Regions from separate parts of the Homo sapiens genome. Here regions 2 and 3 are each linked to region 1. The links come from fine-mapping of genetic effects on gene expression. A gene starts in region 1. Each other region holds a variant in brackets. All regions are shown on one strand. Distances are from middle to middle.

Evidence for each region.
Region 2: its variant is fine-mapped to the expression of EDEM1 in whole blood (INTERVAL, PIP above 0.99).
Region 3: its variant is fine-mapped to the expression of EDEM1 in tibial nerve (GTEx, PIP above 0.99). The same link has a PIP of 0.9 or more in esophagus muscle, subcutaneous fat and testis.

What each region holds. Positions count from the first base shown.
Region 1 is chr3:5,181,046-5,192,109 of GRCh38, forward strand. EDEM1 (ER degradation enhancing alpha-mannosidase like protein 1) reads left to right here and starts at 6,662. Exons shown (of 12, transcript NM_014674.3): 1 at 6,662-7,269. The coding sequence starts at 6,761. RefSeq lists enhancers at 1,048-1,097, 5,120-5,179, 7,601-7,650 and silencers at 6,291-6,700, 6,941-7,110, 7,161-7,450, 8,648-8,767.
Region 2 is chr3:5,212,544-5,222,667 of GRCh38, forward strand. EDEM1 (ER degradation enhancing alpha-mannosidase like protein 1) reads left to right here. Exons shown (of 12, transcript NM_014674.3): 11 at 776-979; 12 at 3,286-7,415. The coding sequence ends at 3,375. Among named protein-coding and RNA genes, the nearest start is that of EDEM1, 30 kb to the left of the region's middle. RefSeq lists enhancers at 841-1,342, 9,775-10,124. The variant T/C (reference allele first, on the strand shown) is at 4,757.
Region 3 is chr3:5,120,953-5,132,016 of GRCh38, forward strand. It overlaps ARL8B (ARF like GTPase 8B), which reads left to right and starts at 1,340. Exons shown (of 7, transcript NM_018184.3): 1 at 1,340-1,636. The coding sequence starts at 1,514. It overlaps LOC124906212 (a long non-coding RNA gene), which reads left to right and starts at 2,107. Exons shown (of 2, transcript XR_007095800.1): 1 at 2,107-2,764; 2 at 7,508-7,863. RefSeq lists silencers at 1,146-1,405, 4,792-5,086. The variant A/G (reference allele first, on the strand shown) is at 4,959.

The DNA of each region.
Region 1 (11,064 bases):
CAAGACCCTGCTAAGCAAATGAAGTTGCAAGACATGCCTATTCACTGACTTCAGTTCAGAATGGAAATATTTTAAGTACCGAACATGCTGGTTTTCCCACAAAGGCACATTTTTAGCATAAAGCTTTTTGCTAGTTTGGTATCATCTGCCCATAAAATAAGTCAATACTTGAGCTATTGGAAAAATAATTGTGTATATTTTTATTTGTTTAGAAAGGTTCAGTTAGCATTTTCTCCATACGCATACTACAATTCTGTACAGCCAACCCTTAGTGGCCAGTTGGATGCATGATTTCGCGTTTATTTCCCTGGAACGTCACGTTGATGTGTTTTTGTCTTTTCACTGCATTACTGGAGCCATGTAGTCAAGCATCAAGTTTCATCCACTTCTCACCATTCTCCTACCAAGGGGGTGAGTGTGTGAGAGTTGAGGGTGAGGATGGGGGAACACGGAGGATATACATTTAGCTTAATTCTAAATGTGTATCTGCTTTTAAAAACTTCTAAACTTATAAAGTTGGTCTTTGATTCTGTCAAGTAAATTGGGTGTTTGAGGAACTAACTGCTTTGTCTGTTTGCTCCATGTAGGATTGAGTTACACTGATACCCTGTTGATTTGGTAATTCCAGCTGCTCCAAGGGTCTGGTGGGTTCAGAACTGGAATGGAAGCTTAAACATAATGTAGTGGGCATCATGCTGTAACATCCAGTTGGCCAAATGCTTTACTCTAAAAATGTGCCACAGTGGGGAAAGCACGATGTTTGATGTTTAAAATGTTTTTGTTATGTTACAGACTTTTAAGGTTATGCCCTCAACTGTGCATAGCAGTGAAGAGACTTGAAAAGGAAGACAGTAAAGCCTTACAGACTTCCCTTAAGTTTGCTGCTCTATAAGTATGCAGCCTGCTGCAGGTGTTTCCTGTTGGTTAGTAAATAACCTCCACACATTGGCTGTTTAAAATTCAGCTATTAATAAAAATGTGTACTTTTGTCATTGCTCCTCTTGGGTGTTCTTAGGGAAACCAAAGCAGGTCATTGTCATGGTAGACAGACTGCAATAGGACTCTCTTAAAAATCTAAGCCACAGCAGTAGTCATTTATTATTCCATTCTATTAACCAGCCCTCTCTTCAGTAAGATAATTCTATTTTGAAATCCCAAGGCATCTGGCATTTAGGTAATGCAGATTTCCCAATAATCAGGAGGGGGAAAAGATACTTTAGCTTCATTTTACTGGGGCTTACAGTAGGGATGTAGGAAAAGAGTTGTTAGCTTACGATGCTAATATAGCTTAATTCTGTGGAGAGTACTGGGTTGGCATTTGGGAGAATGGGTTCTTTCCTTGGCCATTAACTGACTGTGTGACTGGTGAGTTGCAGAACCCCCTCATGGCTCCTTAAGTTTTCCCATCTATAAAATGAACAGGAGAGGATTTCTAACCATAACTTCTGCCACTGACAGGCTGATTCTAGCAGCCTAGAAATTTGCTTGGTGGTTAAAAAGAGATACAAAAACACCGATTTGGCCTAGTGAATATGTTAATATTACATGTTCCTTCAATAGAAGGTAATTCAAAAATACAGAAATATTTACATGTTACAACTTTAAATTTTAGCACAAAAGCTGGAGATTGCAGACATTTTACAGAATGATACAGTAAATTTATTTTGTTTGAAGGAAATTCTGTAAATATACCGGCTTATATTTTGAAAGGCATTTACAAATTTTAGAACATTTTCCCCAGACTGCAGAAAATGTTTGGTATGCACTCCAGAAAAGTGTATATACCTACTACCAATTTGAGGGTAGGTGGTTTAGAGCTAAGGTTTAATCCTTTATAACTGCTGTGTTGCTGGGTTTTTGGGGGTTTTTTTGTTTGTTTGTTTTGAGATGGAGTCTCACTCTGTTGCCCAGGCTGGAGTGCAGTGGCGCCATCTCAGCTCACTGCAAGCTCCGCCTCTCGGGTTCCCGCCATTCTCCTGCCTCAGCCTCCCGAGTAGCTGGGACTGTAGGCGCCCGCCGCCACGCCTGGCTAATTTTTTAATATTTTTAGTAGGGACGGGGTTTCACCATGGTCTCGATCTCCTGACCTTGTGATCCGCCCACCTCAGCTTCCCAGAGTGCTGGGATTACAGGTATGAGCCACCATGCCCGGCCAGCTAGGTTCTGCTAGAATTTATCCAGAGCTTTGGAGAAACCTGGAATGGTTAGAAAATACTACTCTTAAAAGTAAAGGGGCTGGAGGACCAACAAAACCATTGTATCCCCTTTTGGACTTGGGAAGTAGAACATTAACCACTTGCTAATTATAGCATCTCCCTTAACCAATTCTTATCTACAATTGTGACTTACCCTCAGTGTTGTACAATGTGTATCACACAATGTGCTAGCTTGTTTCTGTGGCTTAAGAGAATTCACCATTTCTATCTACTACCCAATAGGTGAATTAGATAACTCTTCCATTTGTATATTTTATTCTGTAAGAAAAATTCAAATTGCTCTTATTTGTCATACTATTAGCTAATTTATAAGCGCTAGCCCTCATTCAAAGAAGGGTTAAGGATTTATAGAATTCCTATATTCTCTGGAAGCATCAGTAACCTAAAGGCTAGAGCATGGTATGGGCATGTGCATGATGAATATTTTTGATGTATAGTTCATATATTTGTTTCAGTGGTTTGGTGTTAGAACTGCTAGAAGGGAATCTCACTATCTTTTCTTCCTTTTTGAGATAGTCTTGCTCTGTCATCAGGCTGGAGTTCAGTGGCGCAATCTCGACTCACTGCAACGTCCGCCTCCTGGGTTCAAGCAATTCTCCTACCTCAGCCTCCCAAGTAGCTGGGACTACGGGCATGTGCCACTATGCCAAGCTGATTTTTGTAGTTTTAGTGCAGATGGGGTTTCACCATGTTGGCCAGGCTAGTCTTGAACTCTGACCTCAAGTGATCCACCCGCCTCAGCCTCCCAAAGTGCTGGGATTACCGGCGTGAGCCACCGCGCCTGGCGACTTGTGCTAACGTTAAACCAAAATTATGGGGGGTCATTGTTTGTGGACTGAGTTTCTGCACTAGGTCCTAGCAGACCAAAGTAGTTACATATATTAAGTGCCACACAGTTACATGGAAACTTTACAGACCAGTTTTTCCTGAAAACAGAAAATCCCAGTCTGTCTGAATCAGAATAATAAGGAAGTCCCTTCTTCTTTAACCCTTAAAAAAAAAGTAACCCGATGTTAACCAATCAGTTATTTTTCATTGTTTTGTTTCCTTGCTCTCATCTTACAAAACCCACTATTCTGCTGTTTCTCATTGGGAGCTTTCATTCTGTTTTGTAGAATGGAGGCTGCCCCATTCATAAGTTATGAATAAACGCCAGTTAGATCTGTAAGTAAATTTGTTGTAATTTTTTTCTGACACTAGGAATTGCCAAATGACCCTTCACACGGGAAGTACTAGTTTTTGTTTTTACCAGTCCCAGTCCCCTATGCCTTTTTAAAAAAGAGATGAAGTCTCACTGTTACCCAGGTAATTGCATTGGCTATTTACAGCCACGATCATAGGAAACGCAGCTTCAAACTACTGGCTCAGGGGATCTTCCTGCCTCAGCCTCTCGAGTATCCTGTATCTTGCTAACAGAGCATGTTGACAAACTTGGATTTGTGCCCATCAAATAAGTTTGAACTGTAATTATATACTTTTTTTTAGGCCTTCAGCTTTGCAAAACCTCTGCTTTTGAAATACTTTTTTTTTTTTGAGACGCAGTCTCACTCTCTTGCCCAGAATGGAGTGTGGTGGCGCTATCTCAGCTCACTGCAACCTCTGCCTCCTGGATTCAAGTGATTCTCGTGCCTCAGCCTCCTGAGTATCTGGGATTACAGACGCCCACCACCACGCCCGGGTAGTTGTATTTTTAGTAGAGATGGGGTTTCATCATTTTGGCCAGGTTGGTCTTGAACTCCGGACCTTAAGTGATCTGCCTGCCTTGGCCTCCCAAAGTTCTGGGATTACAGGTGTGAGCCACCACGCCCAGCCGGGTGCTAGTTTTAAAAGTTTCAGAGTTGAAAAGTATTAATAGGTCTCACTATGTAGCACGGTTGTAAGTACTTTATATATATATATGATGTAATCACAACTGTGATAAACATTGTCCTCATCACTCACCCATTTTATGGATGAGGAAACAAGTCCTAGAAAAGTAACTTCCCAAGGTCACTCTTAGGGCAGAGCTACGATTTGAACACCTGACTTCTGAATGTGAGTTCTTAGTTGTCATCTCTTTGCATTCCCCAGAGTAAAGCCATTTTTACACTGAAAAAGTGCCTCCTTTCCTTTTTTATCAGTCCCTGATGCGCTTGTGAGATTACCGGAAAACCTGTCACAAATCAAACTGTTTATCTTAAAGAGTTGATTTTCAAGACTGGAGTTTTCTGATTGGGTATGGGTGTTGTCCCAATCTTATCAGTACATTTAGCTTAAGGAGAGTCCTAATCGAAAGGACTAGCACAAAATAACCCATTTCTTTCATTTCAGTTTCATTCCAGAAGGAAACACTTTCTGAACCTAGACCCTAATGCCTAGGCTATGCCTTGCAGGGCACTAATGTCAAAACTATTGCTTTTGGGTGGCTTGGAAAGAGCAGAGGGACCTGTCTGCTCAAGGGCCAGCTATTTGAAGTGCAAATTGCCCTAAAGTGTAGTAACTCCCTTTCTGCCTAGAGCCAACAGGCTCTGAGAATTGAGCCCCCAACCTGATTTCTTCCATTATGGCTTGTGGAATAAGCTTTACAGTTTTCTATGAAGATTAAATAAGCACACATGTCAAAGTGTTTTGAAAACCATCAGTTTTACTATGAAAAGCATCTTTCAGGAGTTGGATGGTTTTCTCTGGTTATTAAAAGATTTATTTTTATAAGAGTTTTTCTCTAACATCAAGACAGAAGCTGTCCTCAATGTGGCCTGCAGTTAACCAGGTCAAATTTAAGTTAAAATTTGCAATAAAGTAGCCCCGGAAGGAAACATGCAACATGCAACTGAATATTCACATTCAGTTTGCAAGTTCCAGGAAGGCAGAAGTTCAGGATCAAGGGCTGGAGCTGGGCTGCCAGCACAGTCCCTAGGCATCCTTCACAGAGGGGAAAAAGCAGAAGCTGTGTAGTCTAAAGACCCTGGCTCAAGCTGTCTTCGTAATCTTTTTGCTGCTTGGGCTGCTCTCGATGTCTCAATGTTGGGAAAGAACAAGGCTCAGCCAACAGTAAGGACCTTCCTATGTGCCAGCTACCATGTGCTGTAATCAAGTGTTTTCTTAGTTCCCCTTACACCTCCTCTGTATTTCAGAAAGTCCTCTACCCTGAAAATGTGATGAGAGTGCCACATGACAACTTACCTTCTTATGCACTCCATTGGTCGGCCATTCAGCCAATATCAGATTTGGGGGTCTAGTCAGGTCTTGCTTCCCAAGCTTTTCAGAAACCCTGATGAAACAGGCATAGGGTCTAAACTTAGGGAGGGCAAAACTTACAGCCAACTCCAAATGCAGCAAGCAAAATAAATAAGCGCCTAAACCATTGAATCTTTATGTGAAAGCCATAGCCCTTTAGAGCTAACATTTGCAATCTTCTTAATTATAGGAAGTAGATACAGAGGGGTAAAGTTATTTAACTGGGAATCTACCCCACACCTCAAAGGTTAGGTCACTAATTGCGGGTGCACAGGAGAGATGGTAGGATGGGAGGGACAGGAGAAGACATGTTTAGATATATCTGGTAAATAATTTGGTGGTGGTGGGAGCCTTCATTCCCACCCCCAACCCGCCCCCCCCTTTTAAAAAAATCCTATTTCCGAGACAAAAGCAATATAACATAACTTTGTATTTCCTGAAACTTCCAGTTTCTAAGAACTGTCCAAGAGTACTTACACGCACATTCCCGAGACCGTTGGAGTTGTTCGATAGGTCTAGGGAGGGATCTGGGGATACGTGTTTTACAAGCACCATGAGCGATTCTTCAAAGTTGGGTGTTTGAATCAAAAGAGCAGAATTCATGATACCGTTTTGTGCACTCCTTGAGCTAAAAGGTAGTATCCCACCCTCTCCATAAACAGACACCTAAGTTATAAAACTTATGCGCTCGATATGCAAAAATAGCTCGTTTTATACAGAAACGATCCTTTCCTTCTTTTCCTTATATATCTTTTAACTGTCATCACTCCTAACCTAGACCTAGAGTGGCTTTTTCCGGTCCTAGCTCTGCCGGACACACGCTCTGCCCAGAGACCCGATCCACCCAAGGCCAGGCGGTCTGGGGTCACGTCTGTGTCCAGCGTCCGGCGGGCGCTGCCGTGCCGCTCTCCCATTGGCTGGAAGTTCCCTCGCGGGCCGGCGCGGCTCCTGCTCGCCACGCCAGCCCATCGGGCTACGGACCGCCCAGGGGGGCGGGGCTTGGGAGTTGGGGCGGGGCCCGGGTGAGGGGCGGGGCCTCGGGGCGTCGCGGACGTCCTGGCGGCCTACTGCGTGGGAGGGAGTCCTGGGCCGCGCCCCGCGAGGCCGGGCCCAGGCCGGGCCAATCCCGGGCCACTGGGCGGGCGACCGTGGGGCCTGGCCGGCCCGCCGGAGAGCCTGGGGGTTGGGGACGATGGGCTAGTTCCTGGTGCGTCACGGGGGAGTTCCTTAAAGGGGAAGCGAGCCGGGCTACGGGGCGAGCGCGGGGTGCGGTGGTCGGCGGGGAGGCCCCCGCGCTTTAAAATAATGCCCGCGGCGCCCGCGCGACCATGCAATGGCGAGCGCTCGTCCTGGGGCTGGTGCTCCTCCGGCTTGGCCTCCATGGAGTATTGTGGCTCGTCTTCGGGCTGGGGCCCAGCATGGGCTTCTACCAGCGCTTTCCGCTCAGCTTCGGCTTCCAGCGTCTGAGGAGCCCCGACGGCCCCGCGTCGCCCACCTCGGGGCCCGTGGGCCGGCCTGGGGGGGTATCCGGGCCGTCGTGGCTGCAGCCGCCGGGGACCGGGGCAGCGCAGAGCCCGCGCAAGGCTCCGCGGCGTCCTGGGCCGGGGATGTGCGGCCCAGCCAACTGGGGCTACGTGCTGGGCGGCCGGGGCCGCGGCCCGGACGAGTACGAGAAGCGCTACAGCGGCGCCTTCCCTCCGCAGCTGCGTGCCCAGATGCGCGACCTGGCACGGGGCATGTTCGTCTTTGGCTACGACAACTACATGGCTCACGCCTTCCCCCAGGACGAGCTCAACCCCATCCACTGCCGCGGCCGTGGGCCCGACCGCGGGGACCCGTGAGTAGCCCCCGCCGCCCGGGGCCGCGCGCCCACGCGCTTCCTTCCGCCCTCCGCGCCGGGGTGCAGCCCTCTGTCCTCCGGGGCCCCCGAGGGCGCCAGGGCCGTTAGGGTCCCGGGCAGCGCTCCCGCGCCCTGTCCCGTGTGAGTCCCTGTGAAGACCCCCGAGCTTGAGGGTGCGGGGTGGGCCGGTGGCCTTCCTCTCCTGATTCTCCCGGAATCTCCAAACTTCAGAACTGCTGTCCAGCTCAGTGTCTTACGCGTGAGGATACTGAGGTCCAGGACCAGAAGGGACAGTGGCAGTGCCAAGGGCTGGCTTGGAGGGCTTTCCACTTCCATCCGACCCCTTCCTCCGGATGAGCATAAACTCTAAATGAAATCTCCATCATGCCCCCCGTGTAAACGCAGCCTCAGAACAAGCCTTTACCTCGCACCCCCACCTCTATCACATTGCCACACCCACGTCTTTTCTATGTAAAAAGCCTATAGTTGACTTCTCCAAAGCCGTCCATTGAGTTTGAGGCAGAACGGGGTTACAGCCTCTCCTTCACAGGGGCTGCTTCTTAGGCTGAGGATAGTTAGGTGGTGGGGAGGGAAGCTATGTGGCCCACTTTTGGGGTCCAGATACTTGAGGTGAAATTCACTGGATGCCAGATTGACTGTCAACGTCATCGCCCTGTACGATCTGTCTATAAATCCCCCGCCTCTGGTGGCGTGGTTGTCCGGGAAGGTCAGGCAGTCTTCCCTGTTCACCAGCCTTGTTTGCAAAGGCTGAGCTCCAAGGGTCACCACTGTTGACATCAAAGTCCAAGAGGGCAGTACACCCAGCTAAGGACCTCTTACCTGTAGGGAAGGAATGTGCATTGCCATAGACCCTGTTAGTCCAAATAGTTGACTCCCCTCCCCTGGATGGGAGTGGAGGAGTTGGTTTGCTCAGTGTCTTGGCACCGTCTGGGGCAAGCATTTTCCTTCACCTGGAGGAAAGCAGTGGAGTCCAGTCCTTAGGTTCTGATAAGGAAGCCTATAGACTAAACGGAGTTGGGTTTTTAAAATGGTGTGGTTATTTACACATTTATGTTTTAAATTGCAGTTTGAGAGCATGATTTCTACCGAAGCAAGGGGACATCCCAAGCTAAATTCAAAGGACTGAGCCTTTTCAAAATTCTAGGAAACCGATGAGTTTTTCTTGCTTAACCATAGCGTTTATACGTATAAGTGTATTTTCTATCTCAATTTTTTTGAGAAAAAATATTAAATTTTGAAAAAAAAGTATTTGGCCTTTCCAGATTTTTTGTTTGTTTTTTGAGACGGAGTCTCGCTTTGTCGCCCAGGCTGGAGTGCAGTGGCGCGATCTCCGCTCACTGCAACCTCCGCCTCTGTGGTTAAAGTGATTCTCCTGCCTCAGCCTCCCGAGTAGCTGGGACTACAGACTCGTGCCACCACGCCCGGCTAATTTTTTGTATTTTTAGTAGAGACGGGGTTTCACCGTATTAGCCAGGATGGTCTCATCTCCTGACCTCGTGATCCACCCGCCTGGGCCTCCCAAAGTGCTGGGATTACAGGCGTGAGCCACCGCTCCCGGCCATGGTCTTTCCAGATTTTAAGAAATGAATGAATTATTTGGCTCACTTAACTAGAGGGGACTTTATACCTATAAATGTATTTTCTTTCTTAGTTTTTTTTTTGGGGGGGGGGATAAACTTCATTTAATTGTGGTCTTTTTTTTGTTGTCAGCCTACATCATGCTTTGATGTTTTTTCTTTTTAAATCAACATCATTAAAGTTTGAAAAATATCATAAAATCCCACCAGCTATTTTAAATTTATTTTTGCCACTAGTTCCTACCCATATGTCTATGCATGTTTTACATAGTTGCAATCATAGTATGTGTACATATTTTGGATCTTAATTTGTGCTTTTCCACTAGTGCTCTTGGTATTACAAGAAGGGAGAGAGCACTTCCAATAAGTGCCTTTATTCCTGCTCACAGACTGTTTCTCAGATTACCTTTTATCAGGTGGACTGAAGTTGAAAACAGTTTAACGGGGAATTGTGATAACACTTTCATTTGAGAATATGACGGTTTGGAGAGTGAGTTGATGACATTTTAATGTTTTTCTTAATGAACCTTAAAAGCGCTTCTGGAGAACCTTAAGAATCCCTTCCCAGCAAAGTGAGGTGGTGGTTGATTTAACTTGCTGGTCTTTGTGGTATCATGTGTGCTGTTGGCCTTTATTTCAGGATGAAGGCTGCCGATGAGTGTTTTGGTTTGGTTATGCATTGGTTTGGTTATGCGTAAGTTAAGGTCAGGTTGCTTTGAGACAGATGTGTTATTGGAAAGAGGGTTTTAGAAGTATTGAGGAGGTGGGGATGGCATTAGGGAAGGGTTGTGCCCTGAGCTGGGTAGGCCCGTTGGTTGGTAAACCTTTGTTGTCTTTGAGGAGGCCAAAGAAGCCTTGCATGGACGCCTCACACTTGCCACTTACAAACAGTGGAAAACTTAATTTTTTGTACTCTCCTTCCTTTAACTCCTCTCAGGCTTTGCTTTTTTTTAAATATTTTTTAAAAAAATTTATTTTTAATTTTTGAGGATACACAGTAGGTGTATATATTTATAGGGTACATGAGATATTTTGGCACAGGCATGCAATTTGTAATAATCACATCATGGAAAATTGGGTATCCAACCCCTCAAGCATTTTTCTTTTGTGTTACAAACAATCCAATTATACTTTTAGTTATTTTAAAATGTACAGTTAAATTATTATTGACTGTAGTCCTCCTGTTATGCTATCGAATACTAGGCCTTGAGGAAAGTTTAAAACCAGAGTATTGTCATGCTGGCTTTGAAACAGGAGGGTACTTCACATCCCCAAACTAAATAATCTGTAATAAAAATTTTTCATATTTTTTGTTTGTTTGTTTAATTGACAGGGTATTGTTCTGTCACCCAGGCTGGAGTGCAGTGGCATAATCATTGCTCACTGCAGCCTTGAACTCCTGGGCTCAAGCAGTCCTCCTGCCTCAGCCTCCCGAATAGCTGGGACTAGAGGTGTGCCCCACCATGCTCGGCTAATTTTTTTTTTTTTTAATTTTTCTGTAGAAGTGGGGTCTTACTTTGTTGCCCAGGATGGTCTCAAACCCCTGGCCTCAAGCAGTCTTCCCGCCTTGGCCTCCCAAAGTGCTGAGATTATAGGTGTGAGCCACCAAGCCCAGCCAAAAATCTTTCAGATTTTAAAAAATCAAATGTATTCTAATGACTCATTTAACAAGAGTGAATTTGCCATTAGAGTATTATATAAAAAGTACACATAGAAAATTTCGGTGCTAAACACTCTTACCGTTTCTCTGTAGTCATATATGCTCCAAACTTATCTTGCCTCAAGTACATGTGACTTGTTCTTGGGGAGGTATCAGGTAAGGAGTTAACATGAAGTGAATAAAACCTGAACACTCTAAAAAGAGCAGATCTGTCTAAGATAACTATGCAAAGTCAGTTCTCACATCCTTAATTTGGGTTGGAGGATCCAAATTTAAAGTTTCTTTGAGTAAATGTGGATATTATATTTTTGTAATCCTGTGAATGGTTAACTGTAGTTCTGGCTTTTGGGCATGTGACCATTCTCAATTTCTTCTCAACTGTATTGCTATTAAAACAACAAAACAAATCTCAAATTAAGCCAAACAAATATTGGCCCCTCAAATGCTTAGGTACTACTAGCTCAAGATGGCCTCCTCTGCATTCCTCTTTCTTTGGAAAGTCCTGCCCTCTTTCAGAGTCAGGCTCCTCTTGTT
Region 2 (10,124 bases), 31 kb after region 1:
GTCTACCCTGTTCTTCTCTTGTTACTGTGTAAACATTGACAAGCTGCACTGAATCTCATTTTTCCTCATCTTGAAATAGTTTAGGTGACCAATAAAGTTTCAAAGAGTTTCTAGGTATTCATTCATTCAACATTCACAGAACACTTGCCTTCTCCTGCACTGTTGCATCCCATATTGGGTTAGATGTTCTTTCTAGATGCTCTTTCGTTCCGTGTCACATGCACCATTGAGGGAAAGGACTGTGCCTTGTGTCCATTGCGTCTTCAGAGCCCAACCCTTGTTGTGCAAGAAGTGAAGTGAATGTTGGCAGATGTGTTGGGCTCTGTGCTAGGCCCTGGGGAAATGGTGGTGGATAAAACTTGGTCCCTCCCTGTCAGCATTTACAGTTCAGGGTCTAGGTGTGTGTGAGGTTGGGTGTAGTTCTAGAATTCCAGCAGGAGAACTCTTAGGTAGCACATGGAAATCATCCAGTGAACTTTTATAGACTACCTGTGCTTGGGCCTTAGTTTCAGAATTTCTGAGTCTCTGCGTCTGGGCAGGGTATGTGTAGGGGAGAGGCAGGTCTGGGCATCTGAGTTTAGATGAAGCAGGTGATTCTGCCTTGCAGCCTGGGTTGGGCACCACAGTTGTCAGTCAATTCCTTTTCACCCAGTTGTCACTGAGAAGCATGAGGCCCAAGCAAATTCTACTCCCTGAGTAGCTGGGACACGCCCCCATGATTCAGTTCCCAGTGTGCTACAATTATTGGTTGTATCTTTTTCTCCGTTCCCTCTAGCTGTTTGATGAAGACAATCCAGTACACAAGTCTGGAACCAGATACATGTTCACAACAGAGGGACACATTGTATCTGTGGATGAGCATCTTCGGGAATTGCCATGGAAGGAATTCTTCTCTGAAGAGGGAGGGCAGGACCAAGGGGGAAAGTCTGTGCACAGGCCGAAACCTCATGAGTTAAAAGTCATCAACTCCAGCTCCAACGTGAGTTGCTTTTTCCAGGGGTGATTTGCATATAGAGGAAGAGAAGATACTATGAATTGCTTAGTTGTTCAGACTTCCTGACAGAAAATTGATGGTGTATGCAGATTGGGAGATTTGAAAACACCTCCTAAAGACACCATTTACATAGCTGTTGTCAGGGTATAGGGAAACCGCAGGAGCAGCGGTGGCATCATCACTGCTGGCTGCAGGTGCTGGTGGGGAGAGTGGCTACAGGATCCTGGAAGGGGGGAGCCTTGTGGGAGGAGCGAGCACTCAGCAGGAGCCACGGCTCAGATCTGACTTTCAAGGCCTTGCCTGGAGGGAGCCGGCAGAGTCAACATGTGACCCCTCCCCGCTCCCCCAGTTGCCTGCTGGAGCATCTTCTTGGCTGCCTGGGGCAGAAGCTGGAGGCCGAGGGAGCCTGTTGATATGATCCATCAGTGGACCTGGAGGGGCAAATGGAAGACATTCAGCAAAATCATTTACCAGCAGCAGAAGGGAAAAAAAGCAGTGATGGTCACGATGGTCCCAATGAAGATGCTCTTCGAAGTGCAGCAAACACCCACATTCATTTAAAGTGGGGCTTTACTCCACATGCCTAGATTGTCCTGAGAAGCAGCAGGAAAAATTTGGAAATGGAAGTCCTTGCATCCCTAGTGAAAGTATCAGGTAGTTGTGTTGATTTGAATCAAATAGGATGATTTGGAAGTGAGGATAGGGAAATGTAGGTCAGTCAAAATTTCAAATCTTGTTATCCCCCAGGGCCTTGGTGGTCAGGAGTTCGGCAGCCTCCCCACAGATGGGTTGCCTTGGCATTAGGGGTGCCCTCTCATCGCCGACTGTGCTTCAGTGCTTTTCCGTTAATGCCCCAGTGAAGGTCTTCACCATCAGTCTATGAAGTAAATCGATAGGCCAGAGTGTAGATAACCACCCCCGCCCCCATTTCCATCAGTCATGGAGCGCTGATTGAGTGGACAAAGCATAATCGGGAGGAAGGGGAAGGAGGGTGAGAGGGGGAAGAGTTAATAACAGCCAGCATTTGCAAACACATACCAGGGTTAGCCTTTGCACCATTCTAAACGCTTACGTACATTAATCTGTTTACTTCTAACAACAGCCCTGTGAGGGGTGGTTACTTTTAACATCTCCATTTTACAGCTGAAGAAAGGGAGGCACAGAGAGGTTCAGGTCCCACAGTGGAGCCAGGATTTGGACCCAGGCAGTGTCTTCTCTTTTAGGAAGGAGACATCTCTGACCTGCCATACTCACTAATAGATCTGATCCCATGATTCCAGGCACCAGGGATTCAGGCCCTCAGAAGGGCTCCCGGTTCTGGATAGGAGCATGGCCTAGTGGGGAATCCACTTCCATCCTAGGCGTTTGTCTGTAGTGCTGTTGAAACACAGAGGGTAGGGAGTAATCTCCAGAGAAAATCAAGGCAGGATTCCCTGAGGAGGTCACTTGCTGGAGATCCTTGAAGGATGAAAAGGGGTATCCCAGAAAGGGTGTTCAGGCAGAAGCAGTAGCACCTGCAAAAGCACAGAGATGTGGGCTGGTGGGGGCAGTCGGGACCAATGGAAGGACCGGCCAGTCTTGATCTTGCCAGGGATGAGGAGCAGGGTGTAGTAAGTTCAACTTACTACAAAGCGTGGGGAAAATGTTTCTTTGGAGATGAAGCAGATAATGAATGTATTTAGACAACTGCTTCCAGGGATGTCACAGTTGGTTAGTTCTCAAGATGTGCATCTGCTTTGAGGAAAAAAAGTGGTGGGGGTGGGGGGGTTTTAATTAAAGAAATAGTCTTAAGCATTTAGAGTTTAGTGAGTTGTGAATGAGAAAAACATAGCTCAGAAAAACACAGTATTTTCAAGTAGCAGAAATGTTTTCTGAAATTCTGGGCGGACTAAGGACCCCAGGGATGTGGCTTTCAGTCCTGGCCACGAAGCAGTTGCTGCGATGCCTTTTAGCTTCCCTGGATCTGCCATTTCTTTATAAAGTGAGTGAGGATGTTAAATTATGTCACTGGTCTTCACCTGAGGGTGATTTTGCTCCTCAGGGAACATTGGAACAGCGTCTGGAGACGTTTTTGATTTTCACAGCTGAGGCGTAGGAGTTGCCACTGGCACCTAGTGGGAGAGGCAAGGGGTGCTGCTGACCGTCCTGCAGTGTACAGGCAGCTTCCACAACAGTTACTTCCAAACGTCAGTAGTTCACAGGCTGAGAAACCCTGGATTAAGTCATCCAGTCACATTTCCTGAGAGAGCAACATATGAGTTTTTAATTTTCCCTCGTTTTTGTCTTTCTAGTGCAATCGTGTACCTGATGAGAGGAGGTACTCCCTGCCCTTAAAGAGCATCTACATGCGACAGATTGACCAGATGGTTGGTTTGATTTGATCTGCTCTCTGTGAGGCCTCATCTTGAACCAGACCTTAACGACCAAACCCAGACCATGCCAAAGTCCAGTCTGAAATGAAAGGGGACAGAAGTCTTGCTGTCCATGGTGGTGTAGGAATTTCTGTGCAACACCTCACCACGTCTGGTTAATCCTTGCACACTTCAGTGTTTCTCTCCTGTTCAATAAAATGCCCTGTTAAGGATATAATTTGAAGTGAGAAGATACATGGAAATTGCCCTCTTATGACATGTTGATGTTATAAGCACAATAGATGGGGCATCTTTGGATTGATGTTCACAGCTTTATACTTCAGAACCTAAGTCTCTTCACTTTGCTGGCACCTGCTATACTGGAGTATTGCTATGTCTTTAAAAAATTTTTTTTATTATATTTTATTTTTTTGAGACAGGGTCTTGATATTTTTTTGGGACAGGGTTACCTGGGCTCAAGTGATCCTTCTGCCTCAGCCTCCCGAGTAGCTGGGATTACAGGTGAGCACCACTGTACCTGGCTAGCTACTTCTTTGTTAGAGGATTGAGAATGAAATTTCTGCAAAAGGGCCCATGGTTCATTTGGTATCCCTATTTAATTGCATTGAAAATGTCATCCTTTCTGTTGTTAGATAATTGGGGTCTTCCCCTGATATCCAACCGTGATTTTGGATCACATGGGAGAAAAAGTCATCCAGTTTTTCATGTTTGCCTCAAGTAATCTTTACAGTGTTACAAATTATTTGCTTAAGAAGAATGGTCTTAACCAGAATTCTTAACAGATAGTCTCTTAGGTTATTATGTTATGGTCTAAGAGGTTAACTGACATCTTTTGGGTGGTATTTTGCATTTTGAATATGAACTTACCTGAGGAACTCCCATAGTTCCAGAATCAGGTGCCTTTTAGGGAGAGAACAATACCTAAGATTGTCTGAGCTTCCATCTTTCTCATATTTCCTAAGCAAGGATTCTCACTTCTGACCATATTTGGGTTAGAGTTCTGTTTTGTTTCTGTTTTCTGTGTCTAGTGCCAATTAGCTAAATCAGGGAGAAAGAAATGATCACATGACTTTTAGCATCCTTGAGCCATTTCTCTGTGTAATACAGGCTTTAGATTAGTGCCTTATATTGGTTTTGGTTTGGGGCACTGGATGTCGCAGCTACTGCTATGGTTTCAGGAGGCCTGTTTAGCCACATGGTGAGACCGTGGTGAAAGGGGGATGGAAATTGCTTGGCCAGTCTTTGCCTTTCATCCTGTAAAAGTAAGCATGTAGAAGGAGGAAGTTGTGCTAAAATGCCTTTGTTTTTTTGTTATTATTTTCTTAGCCAGAACATCTCTCTTTGAACTCACACTGATACACACCTGCTACTCTTACACAGTGCAGCAGGG[T/C]TGACTCTTAGTCTGGCTTCCATGAAGCGTCATGGGTGGAAACGCATTCTAGTAAAAAAGGTAGGAAATCCCTAAAACTTCCAGCCTCACATAGCACGGTTCTCACCTGTCACTGTTTTCCCACCTCTAAGGATTTCATGTACATCTTTTCAAAGCTAGAAATAAGCACTGTCTAAGTTTATGTTGCATTTTTAGTCAAAAGGGAGAAATCTTATTCCTTCTTGAAAATTTTAAGTGTTATGGTTTTATATAGTTCAGTTCTTTGAGATTTTTGAAAAGAGTATTTTCAGTAATAAACGTGCCATCTCTATCTCTTAAACATTTATTACAACAATTGTTTTAAAATAGAAAAAATAAAATGCTTCTATTTTACCTTTTTTCATTTCAGAAGCATTATTCTGTTTATTAACAGTGTCCCATCTACTGAATAGAAAACTTTGAGAATAATATATATATATATTTTAAATGTTTTCACTGACTCATTGAAAATGTTAATTACACACACATGCATGCATGCACACACGAGCATACTTGTACCTTTGTCTCTGGGCAAACAGGTGGGACTGTTAGTGACCCATTTGGGAAAATAGAGCATCTCAGAGAAGGAGGTGAGTTCTTCCTGCCTGTGATTTCTCTTGGCGCTCCCCTCCTCTCCCGCTCTGGCTTCTGTGGCGGCAGTGGTGGGTAAGCACTCCAGTGTTCTCTTAATGAGGCACTTTGCCTGTCACTCGAGCAAGCCTGGGTGTTCCTTCCTCCTCATGCTCCTGGAATAGGGAATAGGGATCTCATGCTTGCAAACTACACAATGCTGCAGGTGCTTCCCAGGGGCCACAGGCTGTCAGGAAACGTGTTTTATGTTAAGTCACAAACCCACTTGACTTCTGGGTACTGGAATTAATACCAGTGGGTGAGACTGAGGGTGAGTGAGTTAGTACATATTAATCCTGGTTGTTGAGCTTCCAGACTACCCCGTCCAAAGTTTGATGCTATGTAGTCAGTGGTTTGTGGGGCTGGATGCCAGAAGGTTCTTTGAGCCAGTTTCAAAGGTTACTTGTTTTTTTTTTTTTTTTTTAAAGTCAGAATGTTAACAGCTGTGATATATCCTGCAGGGCTTTTGCAGTTTCTTCTGTTCTGTGTTCTGAAATACTGGGTAGAGAATGGCTGAGGAGGAGATTACCAGAGAAGTTGCTTTGCTCAGTGCTTTGCCCCAGGATTGCCTCAAATCTGAGTGGACTTCATCCTTTGCGGCGGCTCTGAGCCTGGCCCATCTTCCTATTCCCACGTGTAGCTAGTGTCTAGTGTCAGCTTTGCTCAGTGTGGTGGAAACATTTTGCAGAACTGTTGTAGAAAGCTGCCTTATAGTTGGCTTGACAAAGCATAATTCTCTCATAACAAACTTTCAAATCATTACAGTAGCTTAGCTACTTTAGTTGATGTGACCGAGGAATCCCTTCTAGAATCATAGGTGGCAAGGGAGGGTTTGCTAGCTCTCCATTTGCACTGGCCATTGTGAAAAACCAGCTTCTGTATTCAAATCTTTCCTTCATTTTTTTAAATTTTTTTTTTGGCAGCGCTTGTGCTGGAACTTACTCATTGTAACTGAATCCTCAGGGCTTTTCTTGTTTTAGATCATGGACTGTGCACGTGACACTTAAATAATTTTCTATGTATTTAAAGAAAAATGCACCAGGATGGTGTCTGTGCACGTGACTATTAGAGGAGCGTCTGTAGAAGTACCTGGTTTGGTCAGTGCAGTTGTGCAATCTGAGGGCCTTGTTTCCTCCTCCCCTTTCCCCTTCTCCCCACCAAAGGAAAATATCCCTCTTAATGATTTCGTAGTTCAGTTTACTGAATGATTACCACCTGTAATTCCTCTTTGGATTGTGTAGACTCAACATGAGACATTCCTTTCTGCTTTCTGGAGGGCACCAGGGGCCTTTCTCTTTGATAAATTTTTTTTGTCTGTTGACAAAAACAAAAATCTTTTTTCAAATGTAGTGCTGGTGAAAAGGTAGGGCTGAGTGATTACCTTAGCCACAGGGTGGCTGAGCAGGAACTTTAGAAGAAAATCCTGAGCTTTCCTGTCCATTCCCAGCATCCAGCTCCTATTCTAGTGCCTCTTCCCTGCAGGGCAGGGACCCCTTGGGAAATCGAGGAGGTGGGACGGGCTGGGCCCTGTGTCCCAGGTTTCACAGGGCTCAGGGTTATGCTCCCGCTTGAATCTGGACGTGAATCTGGTAAAAATATCAAGTACCTGTGGAACTCCCTGATTCTATACCCTCTTCCTTCTTTCTGCAAGGCAGAGGAATAATATTTTTAAAGGTTATTTTGTTTTAGTTTTAAATAGCAAAACACAAGCTGCATTTTTATTTATTTTGCATAAGAAAGGTAAATCTTTTTACAAAAAAAAGTATAGAGTTGGAAACTCTGGGAAAACTTACGGAAATACACAAATGCTTCTCTGTAATGTGCAATATGCTTTGCAACTGTAGATGATATTTTATGTTTAATCTGTAAATAAGAAATGTATTTAAATTAAAAGGGATCTTTTTGTAAAAGGACCAAATGTTCTTTTATAAATGTAATAAGGAATATCTTGCTCTTTAAAATTTATTAGGATTTTTATGAGTAATTTTTATTAAAAGATTTCTTTTTTTGAGTTGTCATCTTGTTTCTTTTTTACATTCTCATGTACATTACATTACATGCAAGACAAATGGGAGAAAAGTCTCTAAAGGAAGTGCCCATCTAGATGAATAAAACCTTGCTTTTTATAGCTAAGCCCTAAGTAATACCTCCCCCATGGAATTCCACTACATTTTTGTATGTCACACTCTTCCATTAAATGCCCCTCACATGCAGGTCAGAACTGCTTTTCATGACTTTTGTCCCAGCCCTGGCCTTCCCCTCTGCATCAGCCTCCTTTCTCTTGGCCACTGAGTTCATTGTCTATTCTTATTGCCAATTAGCTGAGTGTATCTGGGATCTAAAACCAGTTCTCTGCGTTATCTAAGCAAGGCGCTTCATTTCTCCTCACCTCTGAGAGCAGTGGCACTTCACGGTCTGTGTGGGTGCAGAGGCCCATGGGAAGCGTGTGGGTAGAGGGTTCTGGAGGGCTGGCCTCCCTCCCTGTGTGTTGCCACTGGGGACCATGGTGGGATCCTGAGGAAGGGACCTGCTCCTGCTTTGTGACATCTGTGTCCCAGCTTTGGTCACAGACAATTTTGATACGGGTTTTTTTTTTTTTTTATTTGAGACAGAGTCTCACTCAGTCACCCAGGCTGGAGTGCAGTGGCACGATCTCGGCTCACTGCAACCTCTGCCTCCTGGGTTCAACTGATTCTCCTGTCTCAGCCTCCCTGAGTAGCTGGGACTACAGGCACGTGTCACGACACCAGGCTCATTTTTGTATTTTTAGTAGCGACGGGGTTTCACCATGTTGGCCAGGCTGGTGTCAAACACCTCACCTCAGGTGATCTGCCCATCTTGGCCTCCCAAAGTGCTGGGGTTACAGGCATGAGCCACCACGCCTGATGGGCCTTTTTAAAGGCCACGAAGCATGACAGGGCGAAGGAGAGACTCTCAAGGCTGGAAACACCTTGCCCACATTGAGCTCTACTATTGTGAGGGGTGGTGGGGTTGTGTTTGTCAAGTCTTGTGGGTTTGTGATCTTGACAAAACCAAGCAAGTCCAGTGGGCCAAGGGACCAAATCAAGAGCCACAGGGTTCTTGCCTTCCTGCCTTTCCCACTCCAGGCTGCCTCAGTAGTGGGAGCACCAGGCCCTTTGCCATCTGTGGAGCAAGTGGAGCCCAGCAGTCCTGTATGAACGCTGTAGTCAGTGTCGGGTGGAGTATGGGGACTCTGGGCCACACGGTGCTGGGTACAATTCCAACTCTACCCCTAACTTAGCTGTGTGCCTTGGGCAAGTTACAGACTTGATGGCCTCAGTTTTCCTGTCTAGTAAATGGGTTGATAATAATAGCCCATACTCAGGATAGTTGTGAGGACTGGGTGGATTCATATGTGTAAGGCACTTAACGTGTTTCCTATAATTATGGTCCAGCTGGATTTGACATCCAGGATCAGACCTAGGGCTTAAACAGGGATGCTGGAGGAAGAGTAAGAACATGGCTGGCCATGGGGAGGCTGGGCTGGCCTCCTGGCTTTGTCCTGGATGTGTGGCTTGGGTCAAGGCACTCACCTTCACACGGTGTCCTCACTTTTAAAATCAGAGATGATAGCACATCAACTCCTAGGGTTCCCGTGATGGCAAAATGAATTAGAAGCTACATTTGTCAGCGTGTGAGGCGGCAGCTGCTAAAATGTTTACAGGTTATGTCTCTTTGTCCCTTAAAGTTTTTTTTTCCTTCTTTAATCAAGGAAGTATGCTAATGTCTTCCTAACTCAGAAACCCAGACCAGGAGGTGCAGAGTGGTTGGGTGTGGTGGTACCTGTGCCCCAGCACACCTGGTCTTTGTGCTTAAGCGTCTGGCCCAGTCTGCTAGTCAGTGGCCTAAAGAATGAACAGTCCCTCCCCACTCTGGCTCTGTGTGTGTGTGTGTGTGTGTGTGTGTGTGTGTGTCTGTCTATGTGCTTGTGTGCACTCACGTGCATGTGTGTATGGTTTAAAAGCCTGTTACATTCAAACCTCACCCAAGTCCTGAGCGGTAAATTCTATGATTCCATTTCTCCAGCAGAGAACCCTGGAAAGTAAACAATCTTGCTTCCTGTCACAGCGGAACCCACTGGAAGCAACAGCCTGACGCTCTCTTTTAGATGCCGTCAACCTTAAATGATGAAATTCAGAAAATATGATGAAGTATATTAGATATATGATTAAGAGTTTATTAGATCCCAAAGCCGGGAATAACCGGTTACCCAGGGAACACAGACTCCAGAAAAATGGGGTCAATGCTCCCAAGTTAGAAGTTAAGGTCTTGCTTACATAGGTAGAAGACAAAGATATCTAGTAGGATTAAAACATATTCCGTACGAGGATGGTTTACGAGTTAACAACAGTTTTGTTACAGTTTTGTTTATTTTCTGTACAGCTTGTTTTCATGTCCTTTCCAATTTAAGAGTCCATTTAACATTCCTTCTTGAGACAGTGTGATAGTCATGAGGTCTTTGTGTGAGAAAGGGAAGAGGGAAGTTAATCTATAGTGAAGATCAACAGTGAAGAAGGAAGGAGTCTTCCCTGGTGCCCTTTAGTCACTTCTTACAAAGCAATGTAGGTAAGGAAGAAGGCTAATCTATAGTCAGAAAAATAAAGGTTACAGATGCCTGAACTCAGGTCCCATAATCACATTTCCTTAAGGCTTGAAATATTTAAAAGTTCCAACAGCTTAAATTTGAATTACTTATTTT
Region 3 (11,064 bases), 60 kb before region 1:
ACCATGTCCCGCTAATTTTTGTATTTTTAGTAGAGACGGGGTTTCACCATGTTGGTCGGGCTGGTCTTGAACTCCCAACCTGAGGTGATCTGCCCGCCTTGACCTCCCAAAGTGCTGGGATTACAGGCATGAGCCACTGCACCCGGCCTGGGCTAATTTTTTGTATCTTTAGTAGAGACGGGGTTTCACCTTGTTGGCCAGGCTGGTCTCAAACTCCTGACCTCCTGATCCACCTGCCTCAGCCTCTCAAAGTGTTTGGATTACAGGCTGTGAGCCACCGCGCCCAGCCCAGTTCTGGCTGGTTTTACAGAGGCCAAGCACTTCAATACCTTTCCCGTCCCTGATTCACTTTCTGATGTGGAGGGCCTGATTATAATACTTTTACTTTATTTATTTTTTAATTGTTGTTTTTTGAGACGAGGGTCTCACTCTATCACCCAGGCTGAAGTGCAGTGGCATGATCTCAGCTCACTGCAACCTTCGCCTCCTGGGTTCACACAATTCTCCCACCTCGGCTTCCCAAGCAGCTGAGGCTACAGGTGCATGCCACCACGTTCGGCTAATTTTGTATTTTTAGTAGAGATGGGGCTTCACCATGTTGGTCAGGCTGGTCTCAAACTCCTGACCTCAGGTGATCTGCCCACCTTTGCCTCCCAAAGTGCTGGGATTACAGGCATGAGCCACCGCGCCCTGCCTGATTATAATACATTTAAATGTTAAGTCGCCACCCCAAATGAACATAGGTCATATGCAACATACAGATTTGTTCACTATGTGTGTAAGACCACCTTCATACATATTAATAGCTCCTTCCATAAGTTAAATATGTTTACTTGGCCAACTCCTCAATATAAATTCTTGTTGCACCCTTCCCTCTCTCAAAGTGCTTACTTTTGTTTTTTTTGGCCCGAGGCTGCACGTCCTGCCTACAGCTTATAATCCCCTTCTTAAGAAATAATGCTCTCCTTTCTAAATTTATAAACGGTGTCATTTTTAAGTTAACACTATCTTTTGCTACTACCAAAAATGTAGGACAGGAATTTTTATTCCACGCCAACTCTTCCAGAGTCTTGAAGTCTTCCTGCAGATTGTTAATGAACAATTATAGCAAAAAATGAATGAATGAATTAACGAATGTATAAGTGGATGAATGACGAATGAACCAACAATGAATGAATGTAGAGAAAGCCTCAAGGGGGCCCGAGGGTACGCTGTGCTGCGGAGCATGCCCACCAGGTGGCGATGCCAGCGGCGGGCGGGCCTGGCCGGATTGGCCGCGCCGCTCTTGCCGTGGGTGCCGACGGCGGCGCCGGGACGGGCGTGGGGGGTAGGGCGAGTCATATGATCCGCTCGGCTTCCTGGGTCTGGCTGCTGCCGCCCGCCGGTGTCCGCCCGTGTCGCGCCGGGGCACCAAGGAGCCGTTGGAGGGTCCGGGCGGAGGCCCGCTCGTGTGGAAGTCGTCGACGCCGCCGCTCGTCCGTCCTCCCGTCCGTTCTCGCTCCCGGCCGCCATCATGCTGGCGCTCATCTCCCGCCTGCTGGACTGGTTCCGTTCGCTCTTCTGGAAGGAAGAGATGGAGCTGACGCTCGTGGGGCTGCAGTACTCGGGCAAGACCACCTTCGTCAATGTCATCGCGGTGAGCGCCCGCCCACTCACTCGCCCGGGGCTCCGCAGCCAGGAGTCCGGCCCGGCGCTTCTCCAAGGCCTGAGTTGGGGCCCCCCTCGGCGCGATGGGACTGATGGCGGGGGGCGTGCGAAGCTGGGCCTGTCATCTCCCGAGGGCCAGCATTTGGAATTTCCCGCGTGTTGGCGGCGCGGGGAGTAGCACTGAGATCGGCAGCGGAAGGGTTAAGTCAGTGTAGACATTTTCCAAGGGCTGTGTCCTCAACGCCGCGGGGGCTCGGAAAGAGTTAAATTGAACTCGTCACATTTTTAAAGCGCTTGGGGATTGGGGTTTCCCTTGGGTTTGCCCAGTAGGGGCAGCCAAAGAGTTAAGTCCAGTCTGTCACTTTCCCAAAGGGTGGGATTTGGCAAATCCGTCAGCCGTACGAGAAAGCGTAAGCATTAAGAGCCTCTCTTAAGTTGCCACTTTGGACCAATAGACCCATTGTGAAAGCGGGAGACCAGTGTGAGCGCCTTCCTGAATTCTGTGGGCCGCTGGTCCCATCTAATTCAGTTACTTGTTTTCACCCGTCCCCCAGGCGCGGAGACCAAGCTCATTGCTGAGCTCCAGCTAGCCCACAATACATAGTATTTATTAAGCTAAGAGTTAATTGTCTTAAGCGACTAGATAAGATGGATCTGCAGTTAGCATAAAGTTAACTACCCTGCGAAAGAGGAGTTGGTCTTTAAATGGTGTTTTTCACTTGAAGAGAAAAGAAGGTACTGGGCAGGAACATAGCTTAGCAGGCCTAGGGAATGGGTGGAAGGAAAATTGCACTGAGGACTTACATAGAATGTGGTGTTTGTTCAGCAATGATTGAGTAGAAAGGTGATTGTTTCGTTTTGCTTGTTTGGTTGGTTGGGAAATAAATAGGAGTGAAAGATTTCGCCTCGATCTTTATTTAGAGCCCAAGAGTTGTTGTGACTCAGTTTTAGCTGGTAGTGGCTTGTACACGCCAGGGGAGTTTTAGAACTGTTCTGAAGAGAGATGGCAGCAGTTCTTCCACCTTTTCGATGACTGTTGAAATCCTGAAGATTAGCTGTCCGACTGGTTAGGTTACACAAGATGATTCAAACACAGCTTTCATGTTTGAGAAAATAGGTAACTTGTGATTCTTAGTCCTTGCACTAATAAAGCAACAGGAATGAGTAAGTCTTGGAGAAAAAGAGATTAGCAGAAACCCCAAAGTCCTTTGAAGAATGATGTATATAAGGAAGATTTACCTGCTTGTTGTTCGGCTCCTTTTCTAGTAGTATTATTATTAATTTTTTTTCTTGAGACGGAGTCTCGCTTTGTCCCCCAGGCTGGAGTGCAGTGGCGAGATCTCAGCTCACTGCAACCTCCACCTCCCAGGTTCAAGCGATTTTCCTGCCTCCACCTCCTGCGTAGCTGGGATTACAGACGTCCTCCACCACGCCCGGCTAATTACTTTTAGTAGAGATGGGTTTTGCTTTGTTGCTCAGGCTAGTCTCAAAACTCCTGACCTCATGTGATCCGCCCGACTCGGCCTCTTAAAATGCTGGGATTGCAGGTGTGAGCCACCGCGCCTGGCCTCCTATTGTAATATTATGATTTTTTGCGCTTGGAATGACTATCTTTCCGCAGGAATAGAAGAGTGGAATGTGTATCTAATACCACTAATTTTTTTTTTTTTTTTTTTTTTTTTTTTCTGGTAGAGACAAGATCTTCCTATGTTGCCAGGCCAGCCTTGAACTCCTGGGCTCAAGCGAGCCTCCTGCCTCGGCCTCCCAAAGTGCTGGCATTACAGGCATGAGCCACCGTTCCTGGCCTAATACCACTAAAATTAATGAGGAAACATGAACTTCGGGTTACATATTTATATTAGAATTTTTTTCTTTTCTTTTTTGGAGACAGGGTCTTGAGCTTTCACCCAGACTGGAGTGCAGTGGTGCAGTCGTAGCTCACTGCAGCCTCCAACTCCTGGGCTTATGTGATCTTCCCTGTCTCAGCCTCCCAAGTAGCTGGGACTACAGGCATGTGCTACCACCATGGCTCGCTATTTATTTTTAATTTTTATTTTTTATAAAGACGGGCTCTTGCTATGTTGCCAGGGCTGGTCTTGAGCTCCTGGCCTCAAGCAGTCTTCCTGCCTTGGCCTCCCAGCATACTGGGATTATAAGCCTGCTAGAGCTTTTATATAATATGGAAAAGATGAGGCATAAGCTTGAGTGAAGTTGAGCTCAGTTAACTGTAAATTTTCTCATATCCCCTTGAGATGAGAATTGGAGTCATCTTGTAAAACTTGCTCTTTGACAACATGGAATTAATGTTTCATGTGGATAGGTGTATTAATACAGCCAGTTGTATTTGTTGCAGTTGAGTTGTTATGCTTGGGAACTCTAAAAAGTTGAGCAAATCTTTGAGAAACTTCTTGGTGATTTTTATGCTTCTGTTTTCAGTAGACAGTGTAGCTTAATGAGCATGACCTTTGAAGTCAGACAGCCCTGGATTTGAAATCTGGCTCTGCCGCTTAGCAGCCTTACATCCTCTTTGAGTCCTTACTTTCCCATCTATTAAATGGAGGTAATGATATGTTTCTTACAGAGTTGCTCTAGGGATTAAATGACATGAAAGATGTTAAGTGGCTAGCACTCATACTGGCCCACAGAAGGGGATAGGTAGATGGTAACTGTTGTTATTTGTAATTGGGCGTACCTGTTTAATGCAGGAACGATGGCTTGAAAAATACTGAGAAGGGACTCAACTGGTATCATTTTCTACTTTGAATCACTGTATCTATCCAGATGTGGGCTGCAGTAGTGGATTTATGGATTGGGGAAAGTAATCGCATCATGTGTTCCCCCCTGCCCCGCCCCCACCATTAGATTATTATATTTAACAACAACAAAACTTCTGCAAAGCTGTTGAAGTCAAAGTGAACCAGTGGCTCCACCATTATCTTTTTTTTTTTTTTGAGACGGAGTCCCGCTGTGTTGCCCAGGCTGGAGTGCAGTGGCATGATCTTGGCTCACTGCAACCTCTGCCTCCTGGGTTCAAGCTATTCTCGTGCCTCAGCCTCCCGAGTAGCTGGGACTACAGGCGACTGCCACCATGCCCAGCTAATTTTTGTATTTTTAGTAGAGACGGGGTTTCACCATGTTGGGCAGGCTGTTCTCGAACTCCTGGTCTCAAGTAATATGCCTGCCTTGGTCTCCCAAAATGCTGGGATTACAGGCGTGAGCCACTGTGCCCAGCCCACTGTTATCATTAGACTATTCTTTTTAAAATTGTAATGGTGTGGGTAGCTTCAGTTAAGAAAAAAAAAGTCACAAAG[A/G]TAAGGTGATGGATGTGTAATTGGCTTGAATTAGTCATTCCACACTGTAAACATGTATCAGAACATCTCATTGTACTCCATAAATGTATACAATTATGATTTGTCAATTAAAAGTAATATTAATTTAAAAAAGAAAAAAGACATCTGGGCTGTAATTGGCTGTGGCTTTTAAGATGCTGAAAGGGACCCCCTCAGTGAATTTCATACTTTTTTTTTTTTTTAACCTCAAGGCTCTAACCTAACCCCTGATTCTTATAGAATATGTTGAGGATGTAGTGATTAAAATCCAAGTTAGTGATTAAAGATGATTTTAGAGATTTTTAGGTAGAAACAATGTGTCCAAAATAGTAAGTTTAGCCTTTTAAAAAATCAGCTGCACTTTTTGTATTGTATATAAAATAGTTGCTTTATAGAATCAGAAATACAGATGTATTGAGTACTATGTGTCACTCTAGAAAGGTGACCATTTACTTATTCACATTTAAGAAGCGACTTCTCAGGTATGAAAAGCTTCAGCTGAAGCCAATTTTCTTTTTGTAAAAATCAACATTTTGTAAACATTAAAATGTCACTACATGTGCCTTAAACATTAAGGAAGATTTAATAGATGTCATTTAACTTACTCAAAAGGTTCATGAGACTGAATTACTATTATATGTAGGGTTTGGTTTGAGTCTAAAAGATAATGCAGCTTAGTTACAGAATGCTCAGACTTAGAATGCCTTTCCTTAGGATTTTAAAACTGAAATGATACCTAATTTAATCCAGTTTTATGTAGAGACACTTGATATATGTAGTGTTCTCTTTTGTTTTGAACATTATAAAAAAGAAACACCCTAGTCTTGTCTTTTCTGATTAGTGTCAAGGAATGAAGTATTTTTTCCATTGCTAACTGTTCTGGCAGTTATTGCACAATAAGTCATGTGCCTATATGTGTAATGTATATTGAGTAATCTTTATTTTTAACTGGGGCTTTTAGATATGTTATAGTTATTAAAAAATATCTAATAGGATTTGCCAAAATAATATAGGATAAATCTTATGGACATTATGTATTTTTTAAATGGAAGTATAAAAATTTGTCTACACTTTTGCACATTGTTGATACCTGAAAGGTTAATCCAAGGGAAAGTTTATTACTGCTGAGAATTAGGAAAAGAAGATATTTGGGAAGACTGTAGAAATATGAACCTAGAATCATTTTTTAAAGAGTTTGTAGAAACCTTGATTAAGTAGTCTAATTTTCCCCTCATTTTTTAGATGTGGCTAGCAGATCCAGTGAGGTTAAGTGGAATTCCAAGGCAACAAAGCTAATTCGTAGCAGAGATAGAATTAGAATCTGGGGCCAGTGTACTTTCTACTTTTCCCACCTCTTTAGATCCAGCTGAGGTTAGAACCATAGAACTGTGGATTGGGAGATCTTAATCCATTAAACATCTTTTTTGTATTTAATTTAATTTAAAAAATCAGCTGCAGTTTTTGTATCGTATATGAAATGTTTGCTTTATAGAATAAGAAATACAGACGTAATGAGTACTGTGTGTCTCTCTAGAGAGAGCATTTTAAATCCAGGCATCTTAAGCATACTGACTAACATTTGAGGACTATATATTTATCTATGAACATGAATTAGGAGAAGGAATGATAATCTGTGGAAAGTAAGAGTGGAATATTATGTTTGGATATTTAAATAACTGGCTAACAGGCATTACTGAGTTGTTGAACTACTTTTAGTATCTTTAAAAAGCAGAGGGAGATCAAGACCATCCTGGCTAATGCGGTGAAACCCCGTCTCTACTAAAAATACAAATAATTAGCTGGGTGTGGTGGTGGGCACCTGTAGTCCCAGCTACTCGGGAGGCTGAGGTAGGAGAATGGCGTGAACCTTGGAGGCAGAGCTTGCAGTGAGCCAAGATTGCGCCACTGCACTCCAGCCTGGGCAACAGAGCGAGACTCCGTCTCAAAAAAAAAAAAAAAAAAAAAAAAAAAAAGCGGAGGGCCAGGCGCAATGGCTTACGCCTGTAATCCCAGCACTTTGGGAGGCCAAGGCGGCCGGATCATGAGGTCAGGAGTTTGAGACCAGCCTGACCAACATGATGAAACCCCATCTGTACTAAAAATACAAAAATTAGCCTGGCGTTACTCAGGAGGCTGAGGCAGGAGAATTGCTTGAACCTGGGAGGCGGAGGTTGCGTTGAGCCGAAATTGAGCGACTGCACTCCAGCCTGGGCAACAGAGTGAAAATCCGTCTCAAAAAAAAAAAAAAAAAAAAAGCAGAAATAATTTTGTATTTGATTGTATTGCTTATTATTTAATTTCTTTGGAGGTAAGAATGGCAAAAACCATTTTTAAAGAAAATGGGCTGTGGTTCAAGTCTAGATGTTTTACACATCTGAAACTTGACTGGAGAAGCTAGTCTTCCAATAAGGTGGTCTTCAAGTATAGATTCTGAGTTGTGGAAAATGAGGCATCTTACAAAGGAACATCTCTACCTTCCATAAAGTTTTCTACCCTTCATCCCCGCTCCAATTATTTGTTTTTCCTTGCAGACCAAGAATCTTGAAAGCCAAATGTTCTCATTAAGAAGCTGTTAGAGTGCAATAATGCATTCTAAATGCCTGTCTTAGAAGATATTTCACAAGTTAATGGATTTTTTAAGTTTTTCAAAGATATAGTAAGTGGATGGTTACTGAACATGGATACAAAATACATTGAACCTATAAAAAAGTTACTCAAATATTATTAAAAAATTTTTTTTCTGAAATTTTTTTTGTGTTATCAAAACAATACAGGCTCATTAGCGGAGATGTGAAAAGAATAGTATAAGGTAGAAGAAGCCACTTATTTCTACCATCCAAGATTAACTACTGTCAACATTAAAAGCATTTCGTTTTTGTCTTCTTAATGTGTATATCCAGATGTCTTTTAAAAAGTTCTGAGATAATATTACTTATAATGCTTTATATTCTGGTTTAATTGTTACAGTGTATGCATTTTTCTATCTAAAACATTTTTCATGTCTTCATAGTTTATTCCATTGTGGTATGTCTTGTGGATATGCCATAACATATTTGGTAATTCCCTTATTGGACATTTGAGGGATTTTTCCTATGTTTTCCTATTGTACTCAATTTGATCTGCACTTCCTGAGGATGTGTTCCAGAGTTGGTATTTCTGGGTCAAAAACGCATTTTATGTCATATGGCCAAATTGCTTTCCAGAAAGTGTACACTCCCACTGAGAAGGTCTGAACAGTTTTTGTTTTTTGTTTTTTGTTTTTCCAGATAGAGTCTCGCTCTTGTTGCCCAGGCTGGAGTGCAGTGGTGTGATCTTGGCACACTGCAACCTCCACCTCTCGGGTTCAAGCAATTCTCCTGCCTCAGCTTCCCAAGTAGCTGGGATTACAGGTGTTTGCCACCTCGCCCAGCTAATACTGAGCAGATTTCATATATAAAGTTGGACTTTGGTTAAGCACTTTGTCCTCTGGTATTTTTTAGGACAAACATAGTTTTGTTGATGAAGTAGAACGGTATTTTAAAATTATCCTATTAGATACTGCTCTGTTTGTGTTTAATATATTTTAAGAAGTTCCTTTTTATATTTCAGCAACTGCCAAGACTGATAACTATAGAGAACATAATTCTTTCTGAGACAAGTTCTTGCTCTGTTGCCCATGCTGGAGTGTAGTGGCATGATCATGGCTTATTGCAGCCTCCACCTCCTGGGCCCTGGCTCAAGAGATCCCCCCACCATAGCCTCCCAAGTAGTAGGGACCACAGGCGTATGTCACTACGCCTGGCTAATTTTTTTAAACAAGATTTTTGCTGCTGGGTGTGGTGGCTCACGCTTGTAATCTCAGCATTTAGGGAGGCAGAGACAGGAGGATTACTTGAAGCCAGGAGTTGAAGACCAGCCTGGGCAACATAGTGAGGCCACATTCTCCACATTCTCTCTCTCTCTTTTTTGTTTTTCAGACAGAGTCTTGCTCTATCACCCAGGCTGTAGTATAGTGGCATGATCTTGGCTCACTGCAACCTCTGCCTCCTGGGTTCAAGTGATTCTCCTGCCTCAGCCTCCCAAGTAGGTGGGACTACAGGCACGTGCCACCACACACAGCTAGTTTTTGTATTTTTAGTAGAGACAGGGTTTCACCATGTTGGCAAGGCTGACCTCGAACTCCTGACCTCAGGTGATCTGCCTGCCTTGGCCTCCCAAAGTACTGGGATTACAGGCGTGAGCCACTGCACCTGACCAAGGTCATATTCTCTTAAAAAAAAATATATATTTTTTTTTTGTAGAGACTTCATCTCACTGTGTTGCTCAGCCTGGTCCCGGAACTCCTGGGCTCAAGAGATTCTCCTGCCTCAGCCTCCCAAAGTGCTGAGATTACAGGCAGGAGCCACCACGCCTGCCCCTGAGAACATAGTTCTTTTTTGTTGAGCTTCCCAGGCAAGCCATGTAAATATAAATACAGCTCATCCCCTTTACTTATCATGCTGCTATTTTGTTTTAGAAGTATTGGTAGATTGCATATTCCATAACCCTGATATATTTCAGTATAATCCTTACCTAATCTTGGACCTATTATAGTGGGATGCTGCTTGCTTGCTTGTGTGTGTGTGTGTTTTTTTTTTTGGCGGGGGGATGGAATCTTGCTTTGTTGTCCAGGCTGAAGGGCAGTGGCATGATCTCGGTTGACTGTAACCTCTGCCTCCTGGGTTCAGATGATTCTCCTGCCTCAGCCTCTCCCCAGTAGCTGGGATTACAGGCTTGCGCCACTACGCCTGGCTATTTTTTGTATTTTTAGTAGAGATGGGGTTTCGCTACGTTGGCCAGGCGAGTCTTGAACTTCTGACGTCAAGTGATCCGCCCGCCTCGGCCCAGGCATGAGCCACCACGCCCAGCCTATGAACCTATATTCTTACTTCAGTATGCAAAATGTAGCATAATGTTAAGAATGAGGTTGCTTAAAATCTAGGCTACACACATAGTTAGGCCTGCCTTTTCTTCGCTCTTTTCTTTTTTTTCTTTTTCTTTTTTTGTTTTTGAGATGGAGTCTCACTCTGTCATCCATGCTGGGAGTGCAGTGGCACGGGGATTCAAGTGATTCTCCTGCCTCAGCCTCCCGAATAGCTAGGACTACAGGCACCCGCCACCACGCCCAGCTAATTTTTGTATTTTTAGTAGAGACGAGGTTTCACCATGTGGGCCAGGCTGGTGTCAAACTCCTGTGATCTGTCCGCCTTAGCCTCCCAAAGTACTGGGATTACAGGTGTGAGCCACCGTGCCCGGCCACCATTTTCTTGAAAGCTCATTTTGTCCGGAGAATGTTTTAATGCCAATACATGGACTTCATCATTTGTAAATAGTTCTTATCAGAGGAAAATCTAGGAAAAGAAAGGAAACCTACATTTCTCTCCTTCATAATTTAGCTATTTCGTTTCTAGCTTTTGGCAATCTTATTTCAATAAAAAAATTAAAAAATTTTTTTTTTTTTTGAGACAGAGTCTCACTCTGTCACCCAGGCTGGAGTGCAGTGGCGCGATCTCGGCTCACTGCAACCTCCGCCTCCCGAGTTCAAGCGATTCTCCTGCCTCAGCCTCCTGAGTAGCTAGGGTTACAGGCGCACGCCACCATGGCCAGATAATTTTTGTATTTTTAGTAGAGACAGGGTTTCACGATGTTGGCCACACTGGTCTTGAACTCCTGACCTCAAGTGATCCACCCACCTCGGCCTCCCAAAGTGCTGGGATTACAGGTGTGAGCCACTGCACCCAGCCTACCCGTTTCTTAAAAATATTAAATTGACGTTACAGGTTTTCATTAACCCTTATATGAATATTTTGGTTACTGCCATTATTTTCTACTCTTAAGTGACTGAAATGTTTAACTTTGGTTTTTGTCTTTTTTTCAGAGTTCCGGTAATTTCAGAAATGAAATGATTTGACTAGTTTTATCCTTTGAATTTTTCTGTCATTCTTTCCTTTTTTTGAGACAGGGTCTCACCCTGTCACCCAAACTGGAGTAAAGTGGCATAATCATGGCTCACTGCTGCCTCAACCTCTTGGGTTCAAGCAGTCCTCTGCCTCAGCTTCCTGAGTAGCTG